Regions from separate parts of the Homo sapiens genome. Here all the other regions are linked to region 4. Evidence: fine-mapped expression QTL. A gene starts in region 4. Each other region holds a variant in brackets. All regions are shown on one strand. Distances are between the middles of the regions. Region 1 overlaps IGSF23 (immunoglobulin superfamily member 23). Region 2 overlaps ZNF227 (zinc finger protein 227). Region 3 holds the start of IGSF23 (immunoglobulin superfamily member 23). Region 4 holds the start of CEACAM19 (CEA cell adhesion molecule 19).

What was found. PIP is the estimated chance that this variant, and not a neighbour inherited with it, causes the effect. A credible set is the group of variants that fine-mapping cannot tell apart.
Region 1: its variant is the best candidate, but not a certain one, in a credible set for the expression of CEACAM19 in blood mononuclear cells (TOPMed, PIP 0.71).
Region 2: its variant is the best candidate, but not a certain one, in a credible set for the expression of CEACAM19 in substantia nigra (GTEx, PIP 0.83).
Region 3: its variant is the best candidate, but not a certain one, in a credible set for the expression of CEACAM19 in aorta (GTEx, PIP 0.64).

What each region holds. Positions count from the first base shown.
Region 1 is chr19:44,634,696-44,640,167 of GRCh38, forward strand. IGSF23 (immunoglobulin superfamily member 23) reads left to right here. Exons shown (of 5, transcript NM_001205280.2): 4 at 706-770; 5 at 1,724-2,086. The coding sequence ends at 739. Among named protein-coding and RNA genes, the nearest start is that of PVR, 6.5 kb to the right of the region's middle. RefSeq lists an enhancer at 2,054-2,348. The variant G/C (reference allele first, on the strand shown) is at 2,385.
Region 2 is chr19:44,234,717-44,240,188 of GRCh38, forward strand. ZNF227 (zinc finger protein 227) reads left to right here. Exons shown (of 6, transcript NM_182490.3): 6 at 1-2,552. The coding sequence ends at 2,114. LOC124904726 (a long non-coding RNA gene) reads right to left here and starts at 128. Exons shown (of 3, transcript XR_007067266.1): 1 at 39-128. The variant A/C (reference allele first, on the strand shown) is at 2,765.
Region 3 is chr19:44,610,236-44,615,707 of GRCh38, forward strand. IGSF23 (immunoglobulin superfamily member 23) reads left to right here and starts at 3,328. Exons shown (of 5, transcript NM_001205280.2): 1 at 3,328-3,535. The coding sequence starts at 3,411. RefSeq lists an enhancer at 4,740-5,241. The variant A/C (reference allele first, on the strand shown) is at 2,521.
Region 4 is chr19:44,668,183-44,673,654 of GRCh38, forward strand. CEACAM19 (CEA cell adhesion molecule 19) reads left to right here and starts at 3,300. Exons shown (of 8, transcript NM_001127893.3): 1 at 3,300-3,804; 2 at 4,414-4,782. The coding sequence starts at 3,750.

The sequences.
Region 1 (5,472 bases), 33 kb before region 4:
GGCATGTTCCCAACAGAATCTCTTGAACCTGGGAGGCGGAAGTTGCAGTAAGCCAAAATAGCGCCACTGTACTCCAGCCTGGGCAACAGAACCAGACTGTCTCCAAAAAAAAGAAAAAAGAAAAAAAAAAAAAAACCCAGGGATGTGATTATACTTCCCTCCAAAGACAGGAGTGAGGATTAAGTAAAATGGTGGGAGTCATGAGCTGTGAACAGTGCCTGGAATGTGATGAGCCTTCAATAAACCTCAGCCATGTGATGATGATGATTGTATTAGTTTGCTCCAGCTGCTGTAACAAAAATGCTACAGACCGGGGGGGCTTAAACAACAAAAATTTATTTTCTCACAGTCTGGATGCTGGAAGTCCAAGATCAAGGTGGCAGCCAGTTTGATGTCCCATAGTGCCCCTCTCCATGGCTTGCAGAAGGCCACCTTCTCACTGTGTCCTCACGTGACCTTTTCTCTATGCTCATCCCTGGGGTCTCTTCCTCTTCTTGTAAGGATACCAGTCTTATTGGATCAGGACCCCACTCTTATGATCTCATTTAACCTTACTGTGTCTGAAGAATCTATCTCCAAATATAGTCACATTGGAGGGTTAGGACTACATATTAATTTGGGGAACGGATAATAATTCAGTCGATGATTCTTATTCTCTCTCTCTCTCTCTCTCTCTCTCTGTCTCTCTCTCTCTCTCCACTGCAGGACTGACAGGCAGAGAATAGGAATATGCAGCTGAAATGTGGGCAACTCTCCTGTCAGCTGAAGAGGTAATACCAGGAAGGGTGTGAAGGAAATCCTAGGTTTGGGAACAGAAAGAAGTTCTTGGGCAGAGACTCCATATGTGATTTCCTCCCTCCTGGTTCCCTGGTCATTTGTCTGTGAGATGTTCCCCTCCTGTGGAGAGCTCCAGGAGCTGCTTTTCTCTTCTTTTGCCAACTGCCAGCACCCCATCTGCCCAGCTCATCAAATTCCTGGAAGCTGCCTAAACAAGCAGTCTATATTTCATAAACCTCTTGGGCTCCATGCAAAAGAAACTCACTGACGTAGCTCAGGAAAAAATAAAATGAACAGTTTAATATAAGGACCTATGAAATTTTTCAGCAATCCATAGGTGTGAGTCAGCATTTGCTTTGTAACAAACTGCCTCCCCAAAATTCACTGGCTTGAAACAACAGCCATTTATTTAGCTTGCAATTTCATGGGTCATCCATTTGGGCTGGGCTCAGCTGGGTAGTTCTGGTCTCTGCCAGGCTCGCTCCTGCATCTGGGGTCAGTTGACAGATTGCCCAGGGGCTGTCTGGACTAGGATAGCCTCATAGCTGGGACAACTGGCCTCTCCTTCATGTTGTCTCTCATCCTCCAGCAGGGTGACCCAAGCTTGTTCACATGGCAGAGGCAGGATTCCAAGAGTAACAGCAGAAACTTCAAGGCCCCTTAAGTCTCAAGCTCAAAATGGACATGCCATCACTTCTGCCACAGAAAGGACTTCATTGGCCAAAGTTACATGACTGGCCAAATTCAAGGGATGGGGAAGTTGACTCCACCTCTTGCTAAGAAGGGAAAAATCTGTGGCCATTTTTGCAATCTACGAAGAAATGTGGAAGTACACACAGCTCTCTCTGCCAGCCTCCCCCACACACACACTTCACCCCCACCCCAAGCCCTTACAATTCCTTTCCTCCTGCATGTGGAATTTACAGTTCTCTGTCTCTCTCTGCAGATGGGTGCTTTGTACCTCTCTATCCACGTGGAAAAAAAAACCCATCCCATAGCTTCCAAGTCTACAACATCTCTGTTCAAGGGAACAACCCAACGTAACCAGACTCCCTTTGCCCTGTTTCTGAAACACCTGAAGAAAACATCTGATGGGTTGACTCGGTGCCATCCTTGGTCCCATCGCCGTGACACGTTGTGCAAGCAAAGCATCAGAGGCTCATCCCTGTCTGTGGGAGCTCAGTGCTCAGAAAACAGGGGGGAGGTTTTACCTTGGAAATTGGCCAGACCCCAAAATATGTCTTTTACACATGCTGCTTTTTTTTTCTCTTTTTCAAAAAGAACCAAAAAATAAATTAAAACACCACCACTTCTGAATGGTTTCTCATGAAGCCTCTCTTCCTGAGAGTGGGAGAGGCATGTTTGCAAATAAGATCAACCTTTGAGCTTTGCACTGTTCAAGTTTAATACCTCTCCATAGGAGGATCCTGACAGATAGCAGGCACAGGGCACACAAGTATGGCTGAAACTCCTCTGGGGGATATATCTCACATTTGAGGAAAATTCGGTGCTTCTGTGACCAACACAGAACCACCTAACATGGCATTCTGCTTAGCAATAATAGTAGCAGAACTGAGTCCAAGTCTTGTCTGTTGAGGGCTCTCCAT[G/C]TGCCAGCCACTGACTATTTACCTTACATGATTAATGTGTCATAGCAGGCCAGGCGCAGTGGCTCACACCTGTAATCCCACCACTTTGGGAGGCCAAGGCAGGTGGCTCACCTGAGGTCAGGAGTTCAAGACCAGCCTGGCCAACATAGTGAAACCCCATCTCTACTAAAAATACAAAAATTGGCCGGATGTGGGGGCACATGCCTATAATCCCAGCTACCGGGGAGGCTCAGGCAGGAGAACCACTTGAACCCAGGAGGCAGAGGTTTCAGTGAGCCGAGATCATGGCCACTGTGCTCCAGCCTGGGTGAGGGAGTGACAGTATCTCAAAAATAAAATAAAATAAGTAAGAGATGTTAGCCAGGCACGGTGACTCACGCCTGTAATCCCAGCATTTTGGGAGGCCAAGGCGGGCAGATCACCTGAGGTCAGGAATTCAAGACCAGCATGGCAACATGGTGAAACCCTGTCCCTTGTTATCACACGAATGGGGATGTGGCTTGTGTGCTGCCTAATCTTGCCTAGAACTAGGTGTACCTGCGTTCTTTTGCTTATGGCTTTACCCTTGGTTACCCTAATTCCCTATTCTCCTGCCTCAAGAGGTGACCACAGCAGCCCTGGGCCTGCCCTCCTAGGGCTTATAGTACAGTGAGGGAGACAGACCTGTTCCCAGTGATGACCCAGAGTCATCACTCTCCTCTGGGAGGCCAGGGGGGAGTCTTAATGGAGACTGGAGGATCCAGGAGGGCTTCCTGGTGAGGGAGGGGTCAGCTGTACTAGAGAACAACATTAAGATCATTAATAACAAGAGCAGCCAGATGGCCGGGCACGGTGGCTCACGCCTGTAATCCCAGCACTTTGGGAGGTGAGGCAGGCAGATCACGAGGTCAGGAGATCAAGACCATCCTGGCTAATACAGTGAAACCCTGTCTCTACTAAAAATACAAAAAATTAGCTGGCGTGGTGGCAGGAGCCTGTAGTCCCAGCTACTCGGGAGGCTGAGGCAGAAGAATGGCGTGAACCCGGGAGGTGGAGCTTGCAGTGAGCCAAGATCGTTACCACTGCACTGCAGCCTGGGCAACAGAGCGAGACTCCGTCTCAAAAAAAAAAATAAATAAATAAAAGAGCAGCCAGGTCTTCTGGTTGGAGTTGGTGTTTAAGAAAAATAAAATTTAAAAATTAAAATTTTTTTGGCCGGGCACAGTGGCTCACAGCTGTAATCCTAGCACTTTGGGAGGCCGAGGCAGATGGATTGACTGAGCTGAGCTCAGGAGTTCAAGACCAGCCTGGCCAACATGGCGAAACCTTGTCTGCTAAAAATGCAAAAAAAATTAGCCAGGCGTGGTGGTGCGGGCCTGTAATCCCAGCTACTTGGGAGGCTGAAGCATGAGAATCGCTTGAACCCGGGAGGCAGAGGTTGCAGTGAACCAAGATTGTGCCACTGTACTTCAGCCTGGGCAGCAGAGCAAGACTCTGCCAAAAATAAAAAAATTTTAAAAATTGTTTAAAGAGCAGCCACGTCTCCATAGTGGTAATTGTCAGGCATCGCACCAAAGAGCTTTAATGCGTTCTTCTCAAACAGTCCTCCCACTTCAGCCTGCCAAAGTGCTGAGATTTCAGGTTTGAGCCACTGTGCCATGCTATGCCCATTTTTCAGATAAAGAATCATAAGCCCCAGGAGACATCAATAATAATTGCTGCCATTTGTTGAGCAGTTAAATAAATAACTTTTTAGACCATATATTTCTTTTTTTTTTTTTTTTTTTTTTGAGACAGAGTCTCACTCTGTTGCCCAGACTGGAATGCAGTGGCATGACGTTGACTCACTGTAACCTCCACCTCAAGTGATTCAGCCTCCCAAGTAGCTGGGATTACAGGTGTGCACGACTACCACCCAGCTAATTTTTGTGTTTTTAGTACAGATGGGGTTTCACCATGTTGGCCAGGCTGGTCTTGAACTCCTGACCTCAAAAGTGTGGGGGAAAGAAAGAGAGATCAGACTGTTACTGTGTCTATGTAGAAAAAGGAAGACATAAGAAACTCCATTTTGATCTGTACTAAGAAAAATTCTTCTGCCTTGAGATGCTGTTAATCTGTAACCCTAGCCCCAACCCTGTGCTCGCAGAAACGTGTGCTGTATTGACTCAAGGTTTAATGGATTTAGGGCTGTGCAGGATGTGCTTTGGTAAAAATGTGTTTGCAGGCAGTATGCTTGGTAAAAGTCATTGCCATTCTCCAGTCTCAAGTAACCAGGGACACCATACACTGCGGAAGGCAGCAGGGACCTCTGCCCAAGAAAACCTGGGTATTGTCCAAGATTTCCCCCACTGAGACAGCCTGAGAGATGGCCTCGTGGGAAGGGAAAGACCTGACCGTCCCCCAGCCCGACACCCATAAAAGGTCTGTGCTGAGGAGGATTAGTGAAAGAGGAAGGCCTCTCTGCAGTTGAGATAAGAGGAGGGCATCTGTCTGCTGCTCGTCCCTGGGAATGGAATATCTCGGTGTAAAACCCGATCGTACATTCTATTTACTGAGATAGGAGAAAACTGCCTTATGGCTGGAGGTGAGACACACTGGCAGCAATACTGCTCTTTACTGCACTGAGATATTTGTGTAAAGTCAAACATAAATCTGGCCTACGTGCACATCCAGGCACAGCTCCTTTCCTTAAATTTATCTATGACACCGAGTCCTTTGCTCACGTTTTCCTGCTGACCCTCTCCCCACCATTACCCTATAGTCCTGCCACATCCCCCTCACCGAGATAGTAGGGATAGTGATCAATAAATACTGAGGGAACTCAGAGACCAGTGCCGGTGCAGGTCCTCACTTGCTGAGCACCGGTCCCCTGGGCCCACTTTTCTTCCTCTATACTTTGTCTCTGTGTCTTATTTCTTTTCTCAGTCTCTCGTCTCCACCTTGTGAGAAATACTCAGAGGTGTGGAGGGGCAGGCCCCCTTCAAAATGATCCACCCACCTCAGCCTCCCAAAGTGCTGGGATTACAGGCATGAGCCACCATGCCCAGCCACATATAACTTATTTCTAAATAACTTATTTAACTAACACCACATGATTTTATGACCCCCT
Region 2 (5,472 bases), 430 kb before region 4:
ATAAGATGGAAACACTCCAAAAATTTGCATTAAAATACCTTTCAAATCAAGAGCTGTCCTGCTGGCAAATCTGGAAACAGGTTGCAAGTGAATTAACCAGGTGTCTTCAGGGGAAGAGTTCCCAGTTATTACAAGGTGACTCTATTCAGGTTTCTGAAAATGAGAACAATATAATGAACCCTAAAGGAGATAGCTCTATTTATATTGAAAATCAAGAGTTTCCATTTTGGAGAACCCAGCATTCTTGCGGGAATACATATCTGAGTGAGTCACAGATTCAGAGTAGAGGTAAGCAAATTGATGTGAAAAATAACCTGCAAATACATGAAGACTTCATGAAGAAATCACCATTTCATGAGCATATTAAAACTGACACAGAACCAAAACCCTGCAAAGGTAATGAATATGGCAAAATCATTAGTGATGGCTCCAATCAGAAATTACCCTTAGGAGAGAAACCCCATCCATGTGGTGAGTGTGGAAGGGGCTTCAGTTATAGCCCAAGGCTTCCCCTTCATCCGAATGTTCATACAGGAGAAAAATGCTTCAGTCAAAGCTCACATCTGCGAACTCATCAGAGAATTCACCCAGGAGAGAAACTCAATAGATGTCATGAATCTGGTGATTGCTTCAATAAGAGCTCTTTTCATTCTTATCAATCTAATCATACAGGAGAGAAGTCTTATAGATGCGACAGTTGCGGCAAGGGATTCAGTAGCAGCACGGGTCTTATCATTCATTACAGAACTCATACTGGAGAGAAACCCTATAAATGCGAGGAATGTGGTAAATGCTTTAGTCAAAGTTCAAATTTTCAGTGCCATCAGAGAGTCCACACTGAAGAAAAACCATACAAATGCGAAGAGTGTGGTAAGGGCTTCGGTTGGAGTGTTAATCTCCGTGTTCACCAGAGGGTCCACAGGGGTGAGAAGCCCTATAAATGTGAGGAATGTGGTAAGGGCTTCACTCAGGCTGCACATTTTCACATCCATCAGAGAGTCCACACTGGAGAGAAACCCTACAAGTGTGATGTGTGTGGTAAGGGCTTCAGCCACAATTCACCATTAATATGCCATCGGAGAGTCCACACAGGAGAGAAGCCATACAAGTGTGAGGCGTGTGGGAAAGGCTTTACCCGTAATACAGATCTGCATATTCATTTCAGAGTTCACACGGGAGAGAAACCCTATAAATGTAAGGAGTGTGGTAAGGGCTTCAGTCAGGCTTCAAATCTTCAAGTCCATCAGAATGTCCACACTGGGGAGAAACGATTCAAGTGTGAAACGTGTGGGAAGGGCTTCAGTCAGTCCTCAAAGCTTCAAACCCATCAGCGAGTCCACACTGGAGAGAAACCATATAGATGTGATGTGTGTGGTAAGGACTTCAGTTATAGTTCAAATCTTAAACTACACCAAGTAATTCACACTGGAGAAAAACCATATAAATGTGAGGAATGTGGGAAGGGCTTCAGTTGGAGATCAAATCTTCATGCACATCAAAGAGTTCACTCAGGAGAAAAACCCTATAAATGTGAGCAGTGTGATAAGAGCTTCAGTCAGGCCATAGATTTTCGGGTACATCAGAGAGTCCATACTGGAGAGAAGCCATACAAATGTGGTGTCTGTGGTAAGGGCTTCAGTCAGTCCTCTGGTCTTCAATCCCATCAGAGAGTCCACACGGGGGAAAAGCCATACAAATGTGATGTGTGTGGAAAGGGCTTTAGATACAGTTCGCAGTTTATATACCATCAGAGAGGCCACACTGGAGAAAAACCTTACAAATGTGAAGAGTGTGGGAAAGGCTTTGGTAGGAGCTTGAATCTTCGCCATCATCAGAGGGTCCACACGGGAGAGAAACCCCATATATGTGAGGAGTGTGGTAAGGCCTTCAGTCTCCCCTCAAATCTTCGAGTCCACCTGGGTGTTCACACCAGGGAAAAACTCTTTAAATGTGAAGAGTGTGGTAAAGGCTTCAGTCAGAGTGCACGTCTTGAAGCCCATCAGAGAGTCCACACTGGAGAAAAACCATACAAATGTGACATATGTGATAAGGACTTCCGTCACCGTTCACGTCTTACATATCATCAGAAAGTCCATACTGGTAAAAAGCTTTAGAAATGAGAAATGTGTTACCAACTTTTGTCTGAATGCACATCTTCAAGTTTTTGGCTAGTCCATGCTGGTGGTAAACCCTGTAAAACTACTGAGAGTGGAAGGGGGTTTGTTCACACTTGGAATCTTTCTAACAAATCCATCAAGATGATAACACAGAACCATGAACAGGAATAGAACTCGTATTTAGGGGAGAAATAGGGCTGGTGGCTCTCTTGGTAAGATCTAGTTAATATAAATGATCACCTTTCATTGTGAATATATGCCTGAAGATAATGTGTGGAAGGATATTTGCCATATGCTAACTGGTTTTTTGGCCAGGGAGAGTTTTGGGTTATTATCCCTTTTCTTTAATTTTCATTTTATACTTACAGTGATCATTATTTTCATAAAAGCTGTAAAGCTATGAAAAATGAATAAAATTACTAAAAATTTTCTGTAGCTAAGGACTCATGATTCTTTTATATGGTATATAGGTGTAAAATTAAGGAATATATCCCCAGAGATGAATCTTTGATCTTCAGAAGTAAATTTATATCTGCTGTAGAGGTGTATTAAAGGATAGTAGTATGGCCGGGCACGGTGGCTCACGCCTGTAATCCCAGCACTTTGGGAGGCCAAGGTGGGCGGATCACAAGGTCAGAAGATTGAGA[A/C]CATCCTGGCTAATATGGTGAAACCCCATCTCTACTAAAAATACAAAAAATTGGCCAGGCATGGTGGCACGTGCCTGTAGTCCTAGCTACTCGGGAGGCGGAGGCAGGAGAATCGCTTGAACCCAGGAGGTGGAGTTCGCAGTGAGCCAAGATTGCGCCACTGCACTCCAGCCTGGTGACAGAGCGAGACTCCATCTCAAATAAATAAAGAAGAAAGAGAGAGAGAGAGCAAGAGAAAGAGAAAAGAGGATAGTCGGTGCATCATTGTTTTAGTAGCAAACATAGAAATACTTGGATTGCCAAAGTATTTTGTGCTTTACCAATCCAGTGGCACACTATGCAGACATCAAATGGGAAAAGGTAAATTTTTAGCTGTGGATATTGGAAGATGTTCAGAATATATTAACTTGAAAAACAAAATGTGAGATTTTTATGTGATCCTATTTTGTAAAAACGCATAGATGAATGGGTATTATAGTTCTCTCTAAATAATGGGATTTTACTTTATGTATATTTTTATATTTCTTTAAACTTATTTTGAAATAATTTGAAACTTTCAGAAAAATTACAGAAATTATATAAAAGCTCCCATATACTCTTTACCCAGATTCACCAGTTGTTAAGATGTTTGAATTATTCTCTCAATAAGTATGAGCGTGTATATACTGATACTTATACATACTAAACGCATTTATATATAAAGTTTTGCCATATGAATATGTTACAGACATCCTTCTCCCTACACTAAATACTTAAGTGTGCTTTCCTAAGAACAAGGATATCTACTTAGTTACAGTACAACATTCCAGTGATTTATTTATTTAGAGACAGGGTCTCATTCTGTTGCCCAGGCTGAGTGCAGGGTGGTGATTATAGCTCACCGCAGCCTTGAACTCCTGGGCTCAAGCAATCCTCCCCACTCAGCCTTTCAAGTAGCTGGGACTGCAGGCGTGGACCACCATGCCCACCTAATTTTTAAGATTTTTGTAGAGATGGGCTCTCGCTATGTTGTCTAAGCTGGTATCGAACTCTTGGGCTTAAGTGATCGTTCCACCTCAGCCTTCCAAAATGCAAGGTTTACAGGCATGAGCCACTGCACCCAGAAAGAAAATTTATTATTGATACATAACACTATGTAACCTACAGACCTTATTTAAATCTTAAAATTATCCCAATAATATATTTATTGTTTTTCTGCTCTAGAGTCCAAAGATTACACATTGCATTTAGACTCCTTTAATCTGAGTTGCTACCTCTGTTTTTAATGACCTTGATATTTTTGAGATTATTTTGTAGAATGTCTCTTAATTTGGATTTGCCTGAGGTTTCCTTACAATTGGATTTAAATTACACATTTTTTTCCCATGAGGACTCTGTAAGTGGTGTGCAGCACGTGAGGAAACGAGGTATGTTTGTACCTTTATAGGTGATGTTAACTTGGAACACTTGATTGGGGAGGGCGGTGCTGGGTTTTTCCACTGCGAAATTACTATTTTTTTCTTTGTAATTAATAATTACAAAGGCAACTCCTGGGGAGACACTTTCTGACTCTAAATAGCTTGTTTTTCAGTAAATTTTCCTCCACTAGTTTAAGCATTCTGTAAGTCTGGTCTAAATCAGTAATTGCTCTGATGGTGCGAAAGTGTGATATATTCAACTTTCATCATTCCTCCAACACTTGTTAGATTGTTGTTCTACTCTAAGGAAGTTTCCCTTCTGTCCTGTTTGCCCATCATGTATTTTTAAATAAATTGGAGCACATCTTTACTCTGACACAATACAGTGTTCCAAGCTCATCTTGTACCCTTCCTGCACCATCCATGGAATTTGCTGTTTCTTTGAGAACTCAGATTCTTCTGATTGGGGGATGGTAGTTAAACATCAAGATCTGGGTAATAGCTGTGCCTTTTTTTTTTTCCCTCTAGGAAGGAGGGGAAAGAGTTATACAGATAGGAAGAGAAGTAGAAAGGTAGAAAGAATTAATGATGAGTTCCTGCTTTTATCTCTAGTTCTTAAATTAATATCATAGTGTTTTTTTTCTAGCCTTACCCCCATTCTATGTTGCATCTTCATTCTTCAAGAATCAGAAATTTGTCTCCCAGTATCATTCATATATTTACTGGGGAATGTGGACATGCATCCAACTAGAACTTGGGGGTTCTGTCTTTCAGAGAGAACGGGAGTATTGGATGACTGATGCCAGAGATGATTTTTGAATGGCATAGTCTCCCAAACATTATAATTTTTCCTATTCTCAGGGTATTGACCCTTTAAACCAAATAAAATGTTCCCGTAGGGCCATGAAGAAAAGTATCTGATAGAAATATCCAAAGATAGATATATTCAGATGAGAGCCTTCCAGTCAATGTTTCCTTGCAGATAGTGTTAAGGAATGGTTTCTGGTGAAGTGTTGCGGAGCTCTCCTAGCCTGTGAGTGTCACGGATGCCATTGATTAGCATTGCTTTACTTTATTTACCTCTCATTCTCTGAACCTTCTCAGAGGTAGTTTGACAAAGTTCTCAAAGCACATCCCTCTACTGCTTCTTGAGAGGACCAAGGCATTTTAGGAGAAACTAGTGTTAACGAGACCAAGTCAGAATATTGGTAATAAAGTAGTAGAGTATAATAGAAAGCAGACTGTCAGCCAGGCACAGTGGCTCACACCTATAGTCTCAACTACTCAGGAGGCTGAGGTGGGAGGATCACT
Region 3 (5,472 bases), 58 kb before region 4:
CCTTATGCTGCTAGATGCCCTGCTAAACTTTGATCATCTCTTTCTTTCTTTTCTTTTTCTCTTTTTTTTTTTTTTTTTTTTTTTTTGAGACAGAGCCTTGCTCTGCTGCCCAGGCTGGAGTACAGTGGCTCAATAATAATTCACTGCAGCCTCGAACTCCTGAGCGCAAGCAATTCTCCCACCTCAGCCTCCCAAGTAGCTAAGACTACAGGCACATGCATGCCACCATGCCCAGCTAATTTTTTTATTTTTTTGTAGAAATGGGGGTCTCATTATGTTTCCCAGGCTGGTCTCAAACACCTGGCCTCAAGCAATCCTCCCACCTCAGCCTCCCTAAGTGCTGGGATTACAGGCATGAGCCACCACACCTGGCCTTGGTCATCTCTTAATGCAGAGGTTTACATGGAGTTCTGCAGTCCTCAGAAACAGTGACCTGCTAAGTTCTCCTCGTCCTGCAGGGGTCCGCTTCACCGTCTCTTCCCCAGAGTCTTCCCTTATCCAGCCTGAGTCTCAGCTAGATTGAGAGTCAGATCCTTTCAAAGCTCTGTTTTTCATCTTTCCTTTCCATTAAAGTTCTTTCTTTTCTTTTTTTTTTTTTGAGACCGAGTTTCACTCCTGTTTCCCAGGCTGGAGTGCAATGGCGTGATCTTGGCTCAGCACAACCTCTGCCTCCTGGGTTCAAGAGGTTCTCCTGCCTCAGCCTCCCGAGTAGCTGGCATGCACCACCACGCCCAGCTAATTTTCTATTTTTAGTAGAGACAGGGTTTCTCCATGTTGGTCAGTCTGGTCCAGAACTCCTGACCTCAAGTGATCCGCCTGCCTCGGCCTCCCAAAGTGCTGGGATTACAGGTGTGAGCCACCGTGCCCGACCTCAATCAAAGTTCTTTTGGGATTTAAAGTAACTGAATCCCAAAACAAACTGACTTCAGGGGAAACAATGAGAATACACAGACCAGCATAGCACACAAGCTGAAGGATCAGTATGGACATCAGGCACAGCTGAATCTAGGTGTTTAAATGATGCCATTAGAAATCTCTCTTTCTGTGCATTGACTATGCTTTCACATGTGTTGGCCTCGTTTTTAGGCAATCTCTCTACTCATGATAGAAAGATGGCCCCCAGCAGCTGCACACTGAGATCTCTTCAGCTCAGCAAACCCGGAAGCAAGAAAAAATGCTTTTAGGCTGGGTGCGGTGTCTCACGCCTATAATCCCACCACTTTGGGAGGCCGAGGCAGGTGGGTCACTGGAGGCCAGGAGTTCAAGACCAGCCTGGGCAACATAGTGAAAGACTGTCTCTACTAAAAATATGAAAAAATTAGCTGGGCATGGTGGCACATGCCTGTAATCCCAGCTAATCCGGAGGCTGAGGCATGAGAATCTCTTAAACCCCAGAGGTGGAAGTTGCAGCGAGCAGAGATCACACCACTGCACTCCAGCTTGAGCAACACAGCAAGACTCTGTCTTTAAATAAATAAATAAAAATTTAAAAACAGAAAAAAGAAAAATTGCTTTATTCCCCAGAGTTCCAATAAAATCCGTAAGAGATTGCTTCTCCTTGGCCTGTTCTGAGTGCCACGCCCAGGTCTCCAAAAATCACTGTTGTCAGGGGATGAAGTGCTCTGATTGGCCAGTCCTGGGCCCCTCACCTCCCTGGAGCCATGAGGAGGCTGGTTTCCAAAAGAGAACTCCAGGTGCTGTTACCTGGATACAAGAGAGTACTGGCTGGGTAGAAACCCCAGAAACCTTACAACATAATGGTTATTAACTGCATCGTAAATATTTACTTTTTCCTACAGTGGTCTCCTGACCTAGCTAATCACTCCAGCAGAGGCCTTCAGACCAACTATAAAAAAGGCACTTTAGCAAATGCTAATAAAGAAATAACTGTGTCACCTGATAATGACTATTATTAGAGACTTATGGGTGAACCTTAGCCCCTGGGTGGAACCTGAACCTCTCTGGGAGGGAAAAGCATGAGCTTCTAAGTCAGAAAGATCTGAGTTCAAGTCTGAACACTCCCATTTCACTCACTTGCTCTTCATTCATTTATTCACTAAAAAGAAAACATGTAGGCTGGCTAGGTGGTTCATGCCTGTAATCCCAGCACTCTGGGAGGCTGAGGCAGGAGGATCACTTGAGCCCAGAAGTTTGAGACCAGCCTGGGTAATATAGTGAAACTCTATTTCTACAAAAAGAAAAAAAATTTAATTGGCTGGGAATGGTAGTGTGAGACTGTAGTCCCAGCTACTCAGGAGACTGAGGCAGGATTATTGCTTGAATCCAAAAGGTTGAAGCTGCAGTGAGCTATGACCGTGCCACTGCACTCCAGCCTGGCTGACAGAGTGAGACCCCGTCTCAAAAACAAAAACATGTATTGAGCACCTGTTATATGCAAGGCACTGTTCTAGTCACTAGGGACATAGCCACAAGCCAGACAACATCCCTGCCCTCCTGGATCTGATATTCAAGTCGGAGAGGTGGGACTAAGGAGGGAGAGACAGATAATACAAGTGGACA[A/C]ATAAATAAATCATCTAAAATAGCGGTAAATGATGTAAAGAAAACAAAACAGTGTGGCTTGCTAGCAAAGAGGTGGGGAACTGAGTTGCAGCAGGCATTAAGAAAGGCCTTTTTGATAGAGTGATGTGTGTGAATTAAGCCAAAATAATAAGATACAGTCAGCTTTGAGATTACATGAGTAAGGTTCTAAGGAGAGGGAACGGCTCATGCAAAGCCCCTGAGCTGGTGCCTCCAAAAACTGGCAGAAAGCCCCTGTGAACGGTTGTGTGATGGTAGGTGAGTTACTTAGCCCCTGTGCACCACGAGAAAATGGGGATGCTCATATCTACCCCTCGAGGTTGCTATGAGGATTCAAATTAGGCAACCCTGTTACAAGGTTAATGCTGTGTCCGGCATATAGTAGGTGTTCAATAAACACCAGCTATTAGTTTGAGTAATATAATTATTAATTTGAGGAGGAAAGAATGGACCTGGGGAGTGAGAAGGGTGAGGAAAAAGTAGCTAGTGTAGCTTATCCTTCTAGAATCTAAAATTCAGGATATAGTCTGAGCAAGCTCCTGATAACGGGATTCTAAACATGCCTCCAGGACATCCTAGACACCAAATTATAATTAGCATTGACTTCATAGTGACTGCCATTCGTTGAGCGCCTACTACGTGACCAGGCACTACTCCAAGCACCTTGTGTCCACGGCCCTGTCTGACTCTGGGGCAGGCACTATTATTAACGCCTCCATTTTACAGAGGAGAAAAGCTGTGGTTCAGAGTCCAAAGCCCCGTCACCTCCTACCAGGTTGACCTTTGGCCATTCCTTGCCTTTGATGTGAGTGATAGGAGCGGGCGATTCTGCTTCTCCCTCCATCTCCCGGCGGGGATTGTACGGTGAGAGAATGAGAGCAAAACCTCAGAGCCCCCTTCCCAGGAACCCTGTCCCAGCCTGGTCCCCACCCACCACCACCACTGACCCGATGCTAGAGAAGGATGCGGCTGGAGGTGACTTCCCAGCCAACTTGGTGTAAGTCATGTGGGGAAGTGGCCAGGGTAGGGCATGGTCATCGTGAGCAGGGTCCTGCAGGGTGAGGCCGGGGCTGCAGACGCGACTGTACAGGTCTATGAAGACCCCATGTGTGATGAGGAGACCTTCTCTGCACAGTCCCTGGACAGAACACGAGATGAGGGGTCCTCTGGACGTCAGCTCCAGCCACACCCCTACCTGGAGGAAGCTGCTTTTAACAGGTGCGTTGGAGACAGCGGCTTCACCACGGGCCAGGGACAAGGAGGAGAGTGTCTCCTTACGAGTCCAAGTCACCCCCACTCAGAGCTTTGACCCTGTCAGTTTGAGGCCCATGCAGCTCAGGCACCCAACTCATGAGAACTCTTGAAGGCCACTCCGCCACAAGAGATGACCCTATTGGCTTCTTTTAGGAAGAAGGGAAGTGAGGCGCAAAGAGGAGAACAGGTCACCTACCCAAGATCACAGGGCTGGCAAGGGGCAGGATCAGAATTTGGGACCCCAGCCCAGCCCCCTTCCACCAGAATGCCCTGTCTCACCCCTGCAATCCGCAACTTAGTAATAATACATATAAATAATAACAATCATAAAATAATAACAGCCGTAATAGAAGGTCACTGTAACTGAATAGATCTATATACCAGCCTGTTTGGGGTTTTTGTTTTTTTGTTTTGTTTTGTTTTGAGACAAGGTCTTGCTCTGTTGTCCAGGCTACAGTGCAGTGGCCCGATAATGACTCATTGCAGCTTCAACCTGCTGGGCTGAAGCTGTTCTCCTGCCTCAGCGTCCTGCGTAGCTGGGACCATAGGTATGCGCCACCAAACCCAGCTAATTTTTTATTTTTAGTAGAGATGAGGTCTTACTATGTTGCCCAGGCTAGTCTCGAACTCCTGGGCTCAAGCGATCCTCCTGCCTCGGCCTCCCCAAGTGCCAGGATTACAGGCGTGAGCCACTGCGCCCAGCCTGTCAGCCCGTTCTAAGTGCTTTCCTATAGTAACATTTACCTCTTATCACAACTCTTTGAGATCAGAGCTGTACGATCCCTATTTCACAGAAGGGGAAACTGAGGTTCAGAGAGGTCATGTGCCCTCTCCAGGTCACACACTTGGAAGTGGCAGACTGAAGATTTGAAGCCAGATGGGCTGGCTTCCCAGACCACACTTTCCAGAGACCACACACATCTGCCTCTCAGATAGTGAATGAATTGCTTCCTTATCCAGGTCTTAAAAGTTCACTTCTGAGTTGGGCGCGGTGACTCACACCTGTAATCCCAGCACTTTGGGAGGCCGAGGCAGGCGGATCACGAGGTCAGGAGATCGAGACCATCCTGGCTAACACGGTGAAACCCCGTCTCTACTAAAAATACAAAAAATTAGCCAGGCCTGGTGGCGGGCGCCTGTAGTCCCAGCTACTCAGAAGGCTGAGGCAGGAGAATGGCGTGAACCCGGGAGGCGGAGCTTGCAGTGAGCCAAGATCGTGCCACTGCACTCCAGCCTGGGCGACAGAGCACGACTCCGTCTCAAAAATAAATAAATAAAGTTCAGTTCTGAGCCGGGTGCAGTGGCTCACGGGTGCAGTGGCTGGGATTACAAAGTGCTGTAATCCCAGCACTTTGGGAGGCCAAGGCGGGCGGATCATCTGAGGTCAGGAATTCAAGACCAGCCTGACCAACATGGAGAAACCCCGTCTCTACTAAAAACAGAAAATTAGCTGGGCGTGGTGGTGCATGCCTGTAATCCCAGCTACTTGGGAGGCTGAGGCAGGAGAATTGCTTGAACCCAGGAGGCGGAGGTTGCGGTTAGCTGAGATGGTGCCATTGCACTCCAGCCTGAGCAACAAGAGCGAAACTCCATCTTTAAAAAAAAAAAAAAAAAGTTCAGTTCCATGTAATTTTAAAACCTCAAAGTCCACCTAGTTCAAAGCTTTGCTCTGTCCCCAGC
Region 4 (5,472 bases):
TAATATATTTTATATATTATATATATATTTATATAATATTTATATATTATATTTATATAATATGTTTATATATTATTATATTTATATAATATGTTTATATATTATTATATTTATATAATATGTTTATATATTATTATATTTATATAATATGTTTATAATATATATAATATATTTATATAATATGTTTATATATTATATATATAATATATTTATATAATATGTTTATATATTATATATATAATATATTTATATATTATTATATATATTTTATAATATATAATATATATAATATAATATATATATTATATATATTATATATATTATATATTAGTTATAATATAAATATATAATATATGTATATAATTATATAATTATATACATATTATATATGTATATAATTATATAATTATATACACATATTATATATGTATATAATTATATAATTATATACACATATTATATATGTATATAATTATATAATTATATACATATATTATATATTATAATATATTATATATTATATTATATATTATAATATGTATATATAAATATAATATATAATATAATATAATATAATATATATAATATAATATATAATTATATATAATATATATTATATATAAAATAATATATATATATTCAGTTTTTTTTTTTGGAGATGGAGTCTTGCTCTGTTGCCCAGGCCGGAGTGCAGTGGCACAATCTTGGCTCACTATAACCTCCACCTCCCAGGTTCAAGTGATTCTCCTGCCTCAGCCTCCCGAGTAGCTGGGATTACAGGCATGCGCCACCACGGCCAGCTAATGTTTGCATTTTTAGTAGAGACAGGGTTTCATCATGTTGCCCGGGCTGGTCTTGAACTCCTGACCTCAAGTGATCTGCCTGCCTCTGCCTCCCAAAGTGCTAGGACTACAGGCATGAGCCACCACGCCTGGCCTATTCAGTATATTTTTTTGAGACATGGTCTCACTCTGTCACCCAGGCTGGAGTGCAGTGTCATGATCAAAGTTCACTGCAGCCTTGACCTCCCAGGTTCAACAATCCTCCTGCCTCAGCCTTCTGAGTAACTGGAACTATAGTTGAAAGCCACCAAGCCTACCTAATTTTTTAAATTTGTTTTGTGTAAAGTTGGGGTCCTACTATGTTGCCCAGCCTGGTCTCCAATTCCTAGGCTCAAGCAATCTTCCCACCTCAGCCTCTCAGAGGGGTAGGATTACAAGTGTGGGTCACCTGTGCCTCCCTAAATTTATATTTAAATAGCCACATATGACTAATAGCTATGATATTAAACAGCATAACACTAGACCCTCCATTATCCAAGCTCTGTTGATCCAACCAACAGAGCACATTTGATCTCTCCTACCTCCCAGCCTCACACACACAGGCCCCACACCCTCCTTCCTGGCTCCACTCACCCAAGATATTGCAACCTCCTCAATACACCTTGATGACTATCTCAGCCTCCACATCCTTGCATTGCTATTTATGCTGCCTGGTGCACCTCATGCTGCCTCACCCCATCATCTGCCTCATTTCTACTCTTACTCCAGGTCTCAGCTCAGATGCCCCCTCCCCCAGGAAGCCCTCCCTAGCCGTCAGGTTGAATGAGGTGTGTCTCCTTGGGCTCTCCCAGACTCCTGGGCTCCTCCATCCCAGCCCTGATCACTCTGGATCATAATTGTGTGAGAGGGGTCTGCCCCCCCAAACCCTACAGGATTGTGTGCCCTACTGTGGACAGAGGGCAGAGCAGAGGTGGTCTCAATCATCACTGTGTCACCAACATCACCCAGCACACACAACTGGGCACTGGGAATGTGTGCTGGAATGAATGGAGGATGCTTTTTAAAAACTAGGCTAAGCCAGGTATGGTGAGTCACATCTGTAATCCCAGTACTTTGGGAGGCTAAGGTGGGAGGATCACTTGAGCCCAGGAGTTCAACACCAGCCTGGGGCAACATAGTGAGATCCCATCTCTACAAAACATATAAAAATTGACCAGGGATGGTAGCACACAACTGTGGTCCCAGCTACTCAGGAGGCTGAGACGGGAGGATTGCTTGAGCCCAGGAGTTGGAGGCTGCAGTGAGCAATGATCATGCAACTATACTCCAGCCTGGGCAACAGAGCGAGACCCTGTCTTAAAAAAAAAAAAAAAGAATAACACACTTGGAATAAACATGATCCAAAAAAGTACAAAACATACACTCTGGGGCTGGGTGCAGTGGCTCATGCCTATACTCCTAGTACTTTGGGAGGCCGAGGCAGGAGGATCATCTGAGGTCAGGAGTTTGAGACCAGCCTGGCCAACATGGCAAAACCCCATCTCTACTAAAAATACAAAAATTAGCCAGGCATGGTGACGCATGCCTGTAATCCCAGCTACTCAGAAGGCTGAGGCAGAAGAATCACTTGAACCTGGGAGGCGGAGGTTGCAGTAAACTGAGATTGTGCCACTGTACTCCAGCCTGGGTGACACAGCATCTAAAAAAGAAACCAATCCAAAAACTACAAAATATTCTTGCAATTATAGGTGACATATTTAAATGGTAAGACAACCAATGTTCATGAATGGAAAGACAGAGCAAGACCCTGTCTCAAGAAAAAAAAAAAAAAAAAAAAAAAAAAAAAACAGGCTGAGCGCGGTGGCTCACACCTGTAATCCCAGCACTTTGGGAGGCCAAGGTGGGCAGATCACCTGAGGTCAGGAGTTCAAGACCAGCCTGACCAACATGGAGAAACCCTGTCTCTACTAAAACTACAAAAGTAGCCGGGCGTGGTGGCGCATGCCTGCATTTCCAGCTACTCCCTGAGGTGGGAGGATCGCTTGAACCCAGGTGGCAGAGGTTGCGGTGAACTGAGATTGCGCCATTGCACTCCAGCCTGGGCAACAAGAGCGAAACTCCATCTCAAAAGAAAAAAAAAGAAAAACACGAGGCTAAGAGCTTTTTTTTTTTTTTGAGACGAAGTCTCGCTCTGTCACCCAGGCTGGAATGCAGTGGCGCGATCTCGGCTCCCTGCAACCCCTGCCTCCCAAGTTCAAGTGATTCTCCTGCCTCAGCCTCTCCAGTTGCTGGGATTACAGGTGCCCACCACCACGCCTGACTAACTTTTGTATTTTTAGTAGAGACAGGGTTTCACCATGTTGGCCAGGCTGGTCTCAAATTCCTCACCTCGTGATCTACCCACCTTGGCCTCCCAAAATGCTGGGATTACAGGCGTGAGCCACCGCACCCAGCCTGCCTCAGAGCCTTCAAGTGAGTCAGCCACAGGTGAAATCCCACCTCTGTCTATTGGCAGACTTGCCTCTTTTCCTGGGCCTCTGTTTCCACATCTGTGCAATGGGAACAGTTATTTATGGTGGCTGCTGAATGAGGCAGTGTGTGTTTGAACAAACCCAGGGGAATTGTTCAAACAGAGGCTGTTATGACTATTGCTACAGTGACTGCTGTTGTAGTCACGCTGAGTGAGAAAAAGAGGTTGAAGAGGGTCAGGGGAGGAGTCCTGGGAAGTTCCCCAGTCACCCTGAAAAACTGGTTCAACCTCTGTCTGTGCTCCCATCCCAGGGAGTATAGGTGGAGCCTCCAGAGCCCATGGACAGGGCATGCTGGGGCTGGGCCAGCCCCAGCGGTGTCTCTAAGGCACCCCTGGGATCCCCACTGAGCTGGCCTACTTCAGACAGCCAGGGCCCACCCCTCTGGCCCCCTTAGTGTCCAGCTCGTGGCCCCTTGGCATTTCCACAAGACGCCAAGATGGAGATTCCCATGGGGACCCAGGGCTGCTTCTCAAAGAGCCTCCTGCTCTCAGGTAAGGAGGAAATAGACCCTAAAGGCCAAGGGGAGAAATGGGGACTCAGCCCAGAGATTGAAGTTTCCTCTTAGAAGTAGGGAAAGATTACCTGAGAGGATGAAATTAGAATAAGATGGGGGAGGGGCAACAGAATCACAGCCTCATTGCCATTTTATCTATGGAATTTTCTATAATGTTAGGACCATGAAGGCAGGAATTTATGTATGTTTGGTTCCCTGCTATATCTCCAGTGTCTAGAAATTGAAGGAAGTTTAGATGTATTACATATAGTTGGTATTATAGCTTATATATTACATATGCCTATAAGTATTGGTTGAATAAATGAATGAATGAATGAATTCAGAGAGTCCATGTGTTTAGAAGCAGGCCACACAGCATCTCAAGGTAGAAAAACCTCTGGATCAACAGGATGGCAAATCTGTGGTAACCATGCCTGTGTTCCCACTCCTGCACCCAGGGCAGACATCACTAATCAATCCCAGCATTGTTTCCAATGAGCAGCACTCAGAGTCCTTGCTCCCCGCTGAAGATCTGTATCTAGAGAGGAGCATGCCATGGTCCCTGGCAACACCCCTGATCTCAGCCCTTCCCTGTAACTTCCCACAGCCTCAATCCTGGTCCTCTGGATGCTCCAAGGCTCCCAGGCAGCTCTCTACATCCAGAAGATTCCAGAGCAGCCTCAAAAGAACCAGGACCTTCTCCTGTCAGTCCAGGGTGTCCCAGACACCTTCCAGGACTTCAACTGGTACCTGGGGGAGGAGACGTACGGAGGCACGAGGCTATTTACCTACATCCCTGGGATACAACGGCCTCAGAGGGATGGCAGTGCCATGGGACAGCGAGACATCGTGGGCTTCCCCAATGGTTCCATGCTGCTGCGCCGCGCCCAGCCTACAGACAGTGGCACCTACCAAGTAGCCATTACCATCAACTCTGAATGGACTATGAAGGCCAAGACTGAGGTCCAGGTAGCTGGTAAGTGTTAGGGTCTGGGGATGAGGTGAGGAAGCTAATGAGCCCTGAGCAGCTACCATGCACCAGGTGCTGTGCAAACACCATTTCATTTGGTCCTCTCATTTATTCACTTGACACATATTGAGCATCTACTGTGTACCAATCCCCAGAGATAGTCTTTAACCCTCACATGCATTAACTAATAAAATATCTATGAAATGCCCGCCTTGTGCCTGACACTGGAGAATGCACCATCTCATTTACCTTTCACATGCACTAACATTAACCAAATTTTTATCGAGCACTTACTGTATGCCTGGTTGTGAGGAATGCATCCCTCAATCTTTATGTTTATAAAGCGAGTATTTACTGATGAATCCACTCGGGGCAAAGTGTGAGGGAAAGGGTGGTGGGCAATAATGACAGCTGGCATTTCTTGGGTGATCGTTAAGAGCCAGGCACCATCTTAAACATTTTCCCTAAAGCATAGTTTCTCAGCTTCAGCACTACTGATGTTTTGTATTGGCCAGTTCTTACTAGTAGAGGGTTTGTGCATTGCAGAGATTTCAGCAGCACCCCGGCCTCTACTCACTAGGTACCAGTAGCAGCTTCCTAGTCATGCCAACCAAAAATGTCTTCAGATATTACCAAATGTCTCCACCCTGGGATAAGAATCACCCCTGGTTGAGAACCATTACTCTATATTTACTC